3 separate regions of the Homo sapiens genome follow, and all the other regions are linked to region 1. The links come from fine-mapping of genetic effects on gene expression. A gene starts in region 1. Each other region holds a variant in brackets. All regions are shown on one strand. Distances are between the middles of the regions.

Region 1 (2,713 bases):
CAGCCAGCCTGTGAGGCTAGAAAGCAAGATGCAGTCAGCCATGTCAGATTTCTCTTACTGTCATAATTTTGCAAAGGCAGTTTCAATTTTTTTTTTTTTTTGAGATGGAGTCTCACTGTCTTACCAGGCTGGAGTGCAATGGTGCGCTCTCAGCTCACTGCAACCTCTGACTCCCTGGTTCAAGCGATTCTCCTGCCTCAGCCTCCTGAGTAGCTGGGATTACAGGCACGTGCCACCATGCCCAGCTAATTTTTTTGTATTTTTAGTAGAGACAGGGTTTCACCATGTTGTCCAGGATGGTCTCCATCTCCTGACCTCGTGATCCGCCCACCTTGGCCTCCCAAAGTGCTGGGATTACAGGCGTGAGCCACTGCGCCCGGCCTAAAAATATTTTTAGTAGTGACGGGGTTTCACCTCGTTGGCCAGACTGGTCTCGAACTCCTGAGCTCAGGTGATCTGCCCGCCTCGGCCTCCCAAAGTGCTGGGATTACAGGCGTGAGACACTGCACCCAGCCCATCTGTCGTTCTTCTCTCTAGACTGTGAGCTCCAAGAACGCAGCACTATTCCTGTAATGCATCTGTGCATGCTTTCCCTTGGTAGACCCTGGAACACAGCAGGTGAATGCTTCAAGGGACAGTCTCAACCCTGTGCACCCTGCCTTAGTGGCTACTGAATGCTTGCATGATTGCATTTGAACCTCACAACAGCCTGAGACGCTGCCAGCACTCAAAAAATTACCTGCCATCTCGCTGTTGAGAAGAGGGGCCTGAAAGAGGCGATCAAGCTGCAAACCCAGGCTCAGAAGCCAACTGCCTGGATTTAAGTTTAGCTCAATTCCTTACCAGATATTTGGCAAGCCACTTAATATTTCTCTCTCTCTCTTTTTTGAGACGGAGTTTTGCTCTTGTCGCCTGGGCTGGAGTGCAATGGCACGATCTGAGCTCACTGCAACCTCTGCCTCCTGGGTTCAAGTGATTCTCCTGGCTCAGCCTCCCAAGTAGCTGGGATTACAGGCGCCCACCACCACGCCCAGCTCTTTTTTGTATTTTTAGTAGACACAGGGTTTCACCACGTGTGCCAGACTGGTCTCAAACTCCTGACCTCAGGTGATCCACCCGCTTTGGCCTCCTAAAGTGCTGGGATTACAGGGCTGAGTCACAGAGCCCGGCCACGCCATTTAATCTCTCCAAGCCTCGTTTCCTCCACTGTACGATGGGGATAGCACCTACTTCAGAGATTGCTACGCCGAATAAAAGGAGCTGGCATATCATGCCTAACATATAACAAGCACGTGATAGAGGTCAGTGACTAGCTTTAGCCTCAGGCCAGCAGCCTCCCGCTCTCCCTACCCTGCGCGCCCCACGTGCCTCCTGTAAACAAGAGAACGCGCAGGCGCCGCAAACCAGCGCCCATTGGTCGGCGTGCCGTCGCCCCGCTGGAGGGAGGACTCAGGCCCCGCTGGCCGCGGGCTCGGTACCCGGTGGGTCGGTGGAGCGTCTGTTGGGTCCGGGCCGCCGGCTTCGCCCTCGCCATGGCGCCCTGGCTGCAGCTCCTGTCGCTGCTGGGGCTGCTCCCGGGCGCAGTGGCCGCCCCCGCCCAGCCCCGAGCCGCCAGCTTTCAGGCCTGGGGGCCGCCGTCCCCGGAGCTGCTGGCGCCCACCCGCTTCGCGCTGGAGATGTTCAACCGCGGCCGGGCTGCGGGGACGCGGGCCGTGCTGGGCCTTGTGCGCGGCCGCGTCCGCCGGGTGAGGACGCGCCGGGGGCGGGGGCGCCAGGCCCGGGTCCAAGGGATAGGAGCTTTGACCTAACATTGGGATGGGGCCTGCCCGCTGGACGAACCGATCTCTGGTGATGGGGAATGGGCAGCGCCGCACGGGCGGGGCCTTGGGCGCCGTCAAGGGCCGACTGTGCCCGCCTCACCTACTCCTCTCTCCAGGCGGGTCAGGGGTCGCTGTACTCCCTGGAGGCCACCCTGGAGGAGCCACCCTGCAACGACCCCATGGTGTGCCGGCTCCCCGTGTCCAAGAAAACCCTGGTGAGTGATGAGGCTCTTGGGGTTCCCCGCCCCGAGGCCGAGTAAAGCAGCAGTTGGATGATGACGGGTCAGGTCAAGACGCAGGGATCTGAGGTAGCTGCTGCCCCACCTTGAGCCACTTCCCAGGCCCCGAGGGCTGGAAACCAAGATGCTATGAAGGGGAGGATGCCCCGGTGCAGGCCGTGCCTCACTGTCCACTGTGATGGGGTGATTGCCTTAGGGGTGGCTCTCATCTGAGGAGCCTCCAGCTCCATCTTGGCCAGATCTTGCTCCCCAGATCCAGATCCAGGCCCCCAGAGCAGCTTCTTCCTCTCCCTCCAGCTCTGCAGCTTCCAAGTCCTGGATGAGCTCGGAAGACACGTGCTGCTGCGGAAGGACTGTGGCCCAGTGGACACCAAGGTTCCAGGTGCTGGGGAGCCCAAGTCAGCCTTCACTCAGGGCTCAGCCATGATTTCTTCTCTGTCCCAAAACCATCCAGACAACAGAAACGAGACTTTCAGCTCAGTCATTTCCCTGTTGAATGAGGATCCCCTGTCCCAGGTGAGGAGCCCTCAGCTTGAGGAGCCCTCAGCTTGAGGAGCCAGCCGCTGCCTCATCACCCTTCTCCCTTCCCTCTGGAGTGGGTTTCTCTGGTCAGCCTAAAGACTGGTCTGCCTATCCAGGACTTGCCTGTGAAGA
Region 2 (2,756 bases), 35 kb after region 1:
AAAGCCTTGTGTGGTAGTGCGTCTGTAGTGTGGGGGATGGGGGTGGGCTGAGGTGGGACGATGGCTTGAGCTCAGCAGGTCGAGGCTGCAGTGAGCTGTGACCGTGCTTCTGCACTCCAGCCTGGGTGACAAGAGCTAGACTCTGTCTCAAAAAAACTAAAACAAAAACAAAAGTTGTGTCCAGGCCAGGTGTGGTGGCTCATGCCTGTAATCCCAGCACTTTGGGAGGCTGAGGCAGGCGGATCACCTGAGGTCAGGAATTCAAGGCCAGCTTGGCCAACATGGTAAAACCCTGTCTCTACTAAAAATACAAAAATTAGCCAGGTGCAGTGGTGCATGCCTGTAATCCCAGCTACTCGGGAGTCTGATGGAGGAGAATCACTTGAGCCCGGGAGGCAGAGGTTGCAGTGAGCCGAGATCACGCCAGCACACTCTAGCAGATCACGAGGTGAGGAGATCGAGACCATTCTGGCTAACACGGTGAAACGCTGTTTCTACTAAAAATACGAAAAATTAGCCGGGCATGGTGGCAGGCGCCTGTAGTCCCAGCTACTCGGGAGGCTGAGGCAAGAGAATGGTGTGAACCTGGGAGGTGATGCTTGCAGCGAGCCGAGACCGCGCCACTGCACTCCAGCCTGGGCGACACAGTGAGACTCCGTCTCAAAAAACAAATAATAAAATAAAATAAAATAAAATAAATGAAAAAAATCTTTAAAAACTCTAATGACTTTATTTTTTTTGGTAGGGACAGGGTCTCACCATGTTGCACAGGCTGGTCTCCAGCTTATGGGTTCAAGCGATCCTCCTGCCTTGGCTTCTCAAAGGGCTGGGATTACAAGTGTGAACCACTATACCCGGCCTCTAGTGACTTTTTTTTTTTTCTTTTCTTTTGAGACAGAGTTTCGCTTTTTTTTTTTTTTTTTTTTTTTTTTGAGACAGAGTTTCGCTCTTGCCCAGGCTAGAGTGGTGTAGTGGCGCGATCTTGGCTCACTACAACCTCCACCTTCCTGTTTCAAGCAATTCTCCTGCCTCAGCCTTCCAAGTAGCTGGGATTACACGCGCCTGCCACCATGCCTGGCTAGTTTTTGTATTTTTAGTAGAGATGGGGTTT[C/T]ACCATGTTGGCCAGGCTGGTCTCGAACTCCTGGCCTTGTGATCTGCCTGCCTCGGCCTCCCAAAGTGCTGGGATTACACGTGTGAGCTACCACGCCCAGCCAGTTTCGCTCGTTTTGCCCAGGCTGGAGTGCAGTGGCACAATCTCAGCTCACTGCAACCTCCGCCTCCCGGGTTCAAGCGATTCTCCTGCCTCAGCCTCCCAAGTAGCTGGAACTACAGGTGTCTGCCACCACGCCTGGCTAATTTTTGTATTTTTAGTAGAGACAGGGTTTCACCATGTTGGCCGGGCTGGTCTCAAACTCCTGACCTCAGGTGGTCCGCCTGCCCCGGCCTCCCAAAGTGCTGGGATTACAGGCGTGAGCCACAGTGCCCAGCCTTCTGGCCATGACTTTTTAAAGAAGATATTTGAGGATATGTTTCACCAAATGAGGGTGAACTGAGAAATAGGAAGCCATCAGGCCCAGGAATCAGGATCTAGCCCAGGAGAGAGGCAAAGGCAATTTACCTGGAAAACAAACAGTCCTCAGTGAAGCAGGGGATGAAGGGAAGTGTCTAGAAAAAAGAGGAGCTGTCAGATGGTGGGGGAAGAATTAGCAATCAGTCCATCAGAAAACAAAGTAAATGAGAAACTCAGGGCAACTCATTAACTCCATTAAAAAGAAAGTACAAGGAAGGTAATTTAATTATAGTCCAACTCTTGGCTCCGCAGTTAACTTTCACATAGTAATAGAAATAGTAATCTGAGTATTTTTTAACCTAATAACTAGGGATGGGGGAGGGTTGCTGACAAAAGAGAGCTAAAGCCTCATGTATGACAACAGGGAGTCAACAGGTAATGTCTAAGATTGATATATCAAGCAAGAGTCATATAAGCACATTTTAAAAATAGCTGAATGAACTGGAAGTGACTGCTGGGTAGGGGAGCAGTACTAGAGAATGGGAGAGACTGTTTTCTTGTTACAAACTGTGTAATTCCACATTAGTAAGTGGGTATGTGTTTTTAAATAAGTATGTTTTAGAAAGACACCAATTCTCCTTGTCCTTAATGTTCACAATTTCTCTCTAGTGTGTGCACTGGGCACCCTGCACTGTTTCTTGCTTCATGTTGCTTTATGAACACTTACTGTCCTCATGGCACGGTTCATGTATTTCTTAGTGGTAGGTACATAATATTACATTATATAAACTTACATCAGGTGCTGGGCATATGTCTCCCATTTCATCCTCAGAAATAGCTATGACAAGAAAGGCCCCGCCTTTCCTGCTAATTCTCACGATGTGACCACTGCCCTGGGAACTTCCCACCCACATGACTGATTTGGGCTCCAGGATGTAGAAGGGCATCTATATGGGCAGTTCTGGACTTCTGCCTCCCGTGGCACTTCTCTGGAGCCCCAGAAACGCCTCTCCTGGTGCGCCTGGCCCTGGCTCTGCTCTGTCACACTCTGCCTTCCTCTCCTGGGCTTGCTTTCTGGGCATGAGCATCCCTGTCAGGAGCAGCTGCTGTGTGATCTTTAGGAGCTCTAGTGGGGCTGGAGCCACCAGCTCCCTGCGGGGCACCCTCTGCCTCCTGCACCCCCTTCTCCCTGAACAACCTTTGTGTGGCATCGTAGGCCTAAGACTGGCTAAGTCTAAGATTTCAG
Region 3 (2,756 bases), 78 kb after region 1:
AGGGGTCGCGGTAGCTCTCGATGAACCCGATGTAACTGGGGGAGAGAAGGGCAGAGGTGGAGGAGGGGCAGGCAGGAGGGGGCAGGTGGGGTGGAGCTGGCGCCTCACCTCTCCACGATGGGGCCTTTGTCCTGGATCCAGAAGCGGGAGCCCCTCTTGTGGGCCTCGATGGAGCCCTGGGTGAAGCTCTCTATATACTGGGCCAGCATCTGCCCCTGGTGGCTGTTGGCTGCATAGGCCTGAGGTGAGCGGGGGTCGGTCAGCCTCGGGCCACCCACCCACCTCCACACCCGCTCTGCTGCCCAGAGGGGTCCTCAGCCCGCACCCCTCAGCCCCCAGCCAGTCCAACCTTGGCTTTCTCCAGCTGCTCCACCACCTTCTGGAGGATGGGCGCGTAGTCCCCCCGGGTCACCTGGAAAGGGCTTCCCCGGAATTCATAGCTCTTCAGCTTGGAAGTCACCTCAGAGTCCAGGGAAGGCTCTGGGGAAAGAAGGTGTCATTCAAGAGAAAAGGCTGGAGTAAGAGGCCTCACTCAGAGAAAAGGCCTGAGTAAGACACCTCAGCCGGCTTTTCCCCATAGCACTCTTTCACTCTAAGATTTTCAATGGCTCCCTGTAGCCAACAGACATGAGCATAAACTCTCAACTTCAAAAAAATATATATCAGCCGGGCATGGTGGCTTACGCCTGTAATCCCAGCACTTTGGGAGGCTGAGACGGGCAGATCGCCTGAGGTCTGAAGTTCGTGACCAGTCTGGCCAACATGGTGAAACCCTGTCTCTACTCAAAATACAAAATTAGCTGGGCATGGTGGTAGGTGCCTGTCATGCCAGCTACTCGGGAGGCTGAGGCAAGAGAATCGCTTGAACCCGGGAGACAGTGGTTGCAGTGAGCTGAGATCGTGCTGCTGCACTCCAGCCTGGGCAACAGAGAAGAGACTCCATCTCAAAAAAAAAAAAAACAAAACAAAAAAAACAAAACAAAACCCCAAAACTAAAAAACAAAAATATATGTATCACATAACATGTGCTTTCCGTGTGTTAACTCCTTTAAGCCTGACTCCAACTCTGGGAGGAGGCGGACATTATCATTTCCATTTCACCGATGGGAAACTAAGGCACCGAGAGCTTAAGTGGATAGCAAGTGGCAGACTGGATTTAAAAAGACAGCCACATCCCAAATGTAATCGACAGTCCCA[T/C]GGGGAGACAAGAGGGTGACTGGGAGGAGGAGCTGTGACGATAGCAGAGGGGAGCTGGAGTGAAGTTGGGGGGCTGGACAGCCTTCCAGAAGCTGGAAAAGGCAAGGAAGCAGGTTCTTCCTGAGACTCCAGAAGGAATGCGGCCCAGCCTTGCTTTTAGACTCTGGACCTCCACAACTGTAATAGAATAAGTTTGTGTTGTTTTGTGCCAGTAAATTTGTGGTAATTTGTTACAGAAGCAATGGGATGCTTACACACTACTGTATTTTCCTTGTTGTCTCTGATCAATAAAATATACTTCAAGGCTATGTAAAAACAAACAAACAAGCAAAAATAGCCACAGTATTTCCTGTCTTACTGCCTTTTTTTTTTTTTTTTTTTTTTTTTTTTAGATAGGATCTTGTAAGGTTGCCCAGTTGATCTCAGACTCCTGGGCTCAAGCGATCCTCCTGGCTCAGCCTCCTGAGTAGCTGGGATTACAGGTGTGAGCCATCATATCCAGCTCAACTGTGACTTTGCCCATGGAGATGTGGGATCTGTGTTCCCTCCTCCTGAAGCCAGGAAGGCTGTGACTTCAGCAGCAGGGACACCATGTGCTTAGGCCAGGTCACACAAGGTGAGCAGGCTTCTGCCTGGCTCTCCTGGGATGCTCACTCTTGGAGCCCAGCTACCACGAACAATAGGAGGGTGCCACATGAGGTATTTTAGTCAACAGCCCAGCTGGGTTCCAGCCGGCAGCCAGCACCTGCGTGTGAGTCAACAAGCCTGGGGATGCTTGCGGCCCCAAGCTGTCGTCTTCCCAGCTGAGGCCCCAGACATGGTCACCCAGCGACCGGCTGTTCCTACTGTGCTCCACCTGCATTCCTGACCCAGAGTCCATGAGCATGAAAAGGTGGTTTTGTATCACTAAATTTGCGGAGCATTTGTTCCACAGCAATAGATTATGACCCACTCGGGCAGTCCGGCTCCAGGGCCACATTCAACCACTGCCCGAAACTGCATCTTGTACTCTAAGTATAGGCCCAGCTTATGTTCCAGTGAGATCCACTCCTGTTCCTCTGAACCCACATCTGCCATCATCTCCCCAGTGGATGCTCGGATCCACCAAGCGCTAGGCACCAGGGAGACAACAGTGGATGAAACACACAGGCCCTCCTCTCGGGGAGCTTGTAGTCAGGGAAGCTACTGAATGTGCCGATGGGAAGAAAGAAGGGCACAGACTCAGTTATGGGAAGATAGGGAAAGGTCCTGGGGAAGGCAAGTCCATGCATGGCCTAGAGGATGGGGAGGAGGTGGCCAGGGGACAAGGAGAGGCTGGAGGGGGTTCCGCATGAGAAGCAGGGAATGGATTGTGCAAAGACCTGGACAGGGGCCAGGCGCGGTGGCTCACGCCTATAATCCAGCACACTGGGAGGCCGAGAGGCACGCGGATCACCTGAGGTCAGGAGTTCAGGACCAGCCTGGCCAAATGGCGAAATCTCATCTCTACTAAAAATACAAAAATTAGCCAGGTATGGTGATGGGCACCTGCAATCCCAGCTACTGGGGAGGCTGAGGCA

The links. PIP is the estimated chance that this variant, and not a neighbour inherited with it, causes the effect.
Region 2: its variant is the best candidate, but not a certain one, in a credible set for the expression of CTSF in whole blood (INTERVAL, PIP 0.81).
Region 3: its variant is the best candidate, but not a certain one, in a credible set for the expression of CTSF in esophagus muscle (GTEx, PIP 0.50).

What each region holds. Positions count from the first base shown.
Region 1 is chr11:66,567,306-66,570,018 of GRCh38, reverse strand. CTSF (cathepsin F) reads left to right here and starts at 1,413. Exons shown (of 13, transcript NM_003793.4): 1 at 1,413-1,745; 2 at 1,937-2,035; 3 at 2,357-2,575; 4 at 2,698-2,713. The coding sequence starts at 1,533. RefSeq lists a silencer at 1,295-1,364.
Region 2 is chr11:66,532,620-66,535,375 of GRCh38, reverse strand. BBS1 (Bardet-Biedl syndrome 1) reads right to left here. Exons shown (of 17, transcript NM_024649.5): 17 at 1,778-2,756. It also overlaps a transcript of ZDHHC24 not described here. Among named protein-coding and RNA genes, the nearest start is that of ZDHHC24, 12 kb to the left of the region's middle. The variant C/T (reference allele first, on the strand shown) is at 1,112.
Region 3 is chr11:66,488,977-66,491,732 of GRCh38, reverse strand. DPP3 (dipeptidyl peptidase 3) reads right to left here. Exons shown (of 18, transcript NM_130443.4): 7 at 350-480; 8 at 109-239; 9 at 1-35. Among named protein-coding and RNA genes, the nearest start is that of DPP3, 9.9 kb to the right of the region's middle. RefSeq lists an enhancer at 1-814. The variant T/C (reference allele first, on the strand shown) is at 1,198.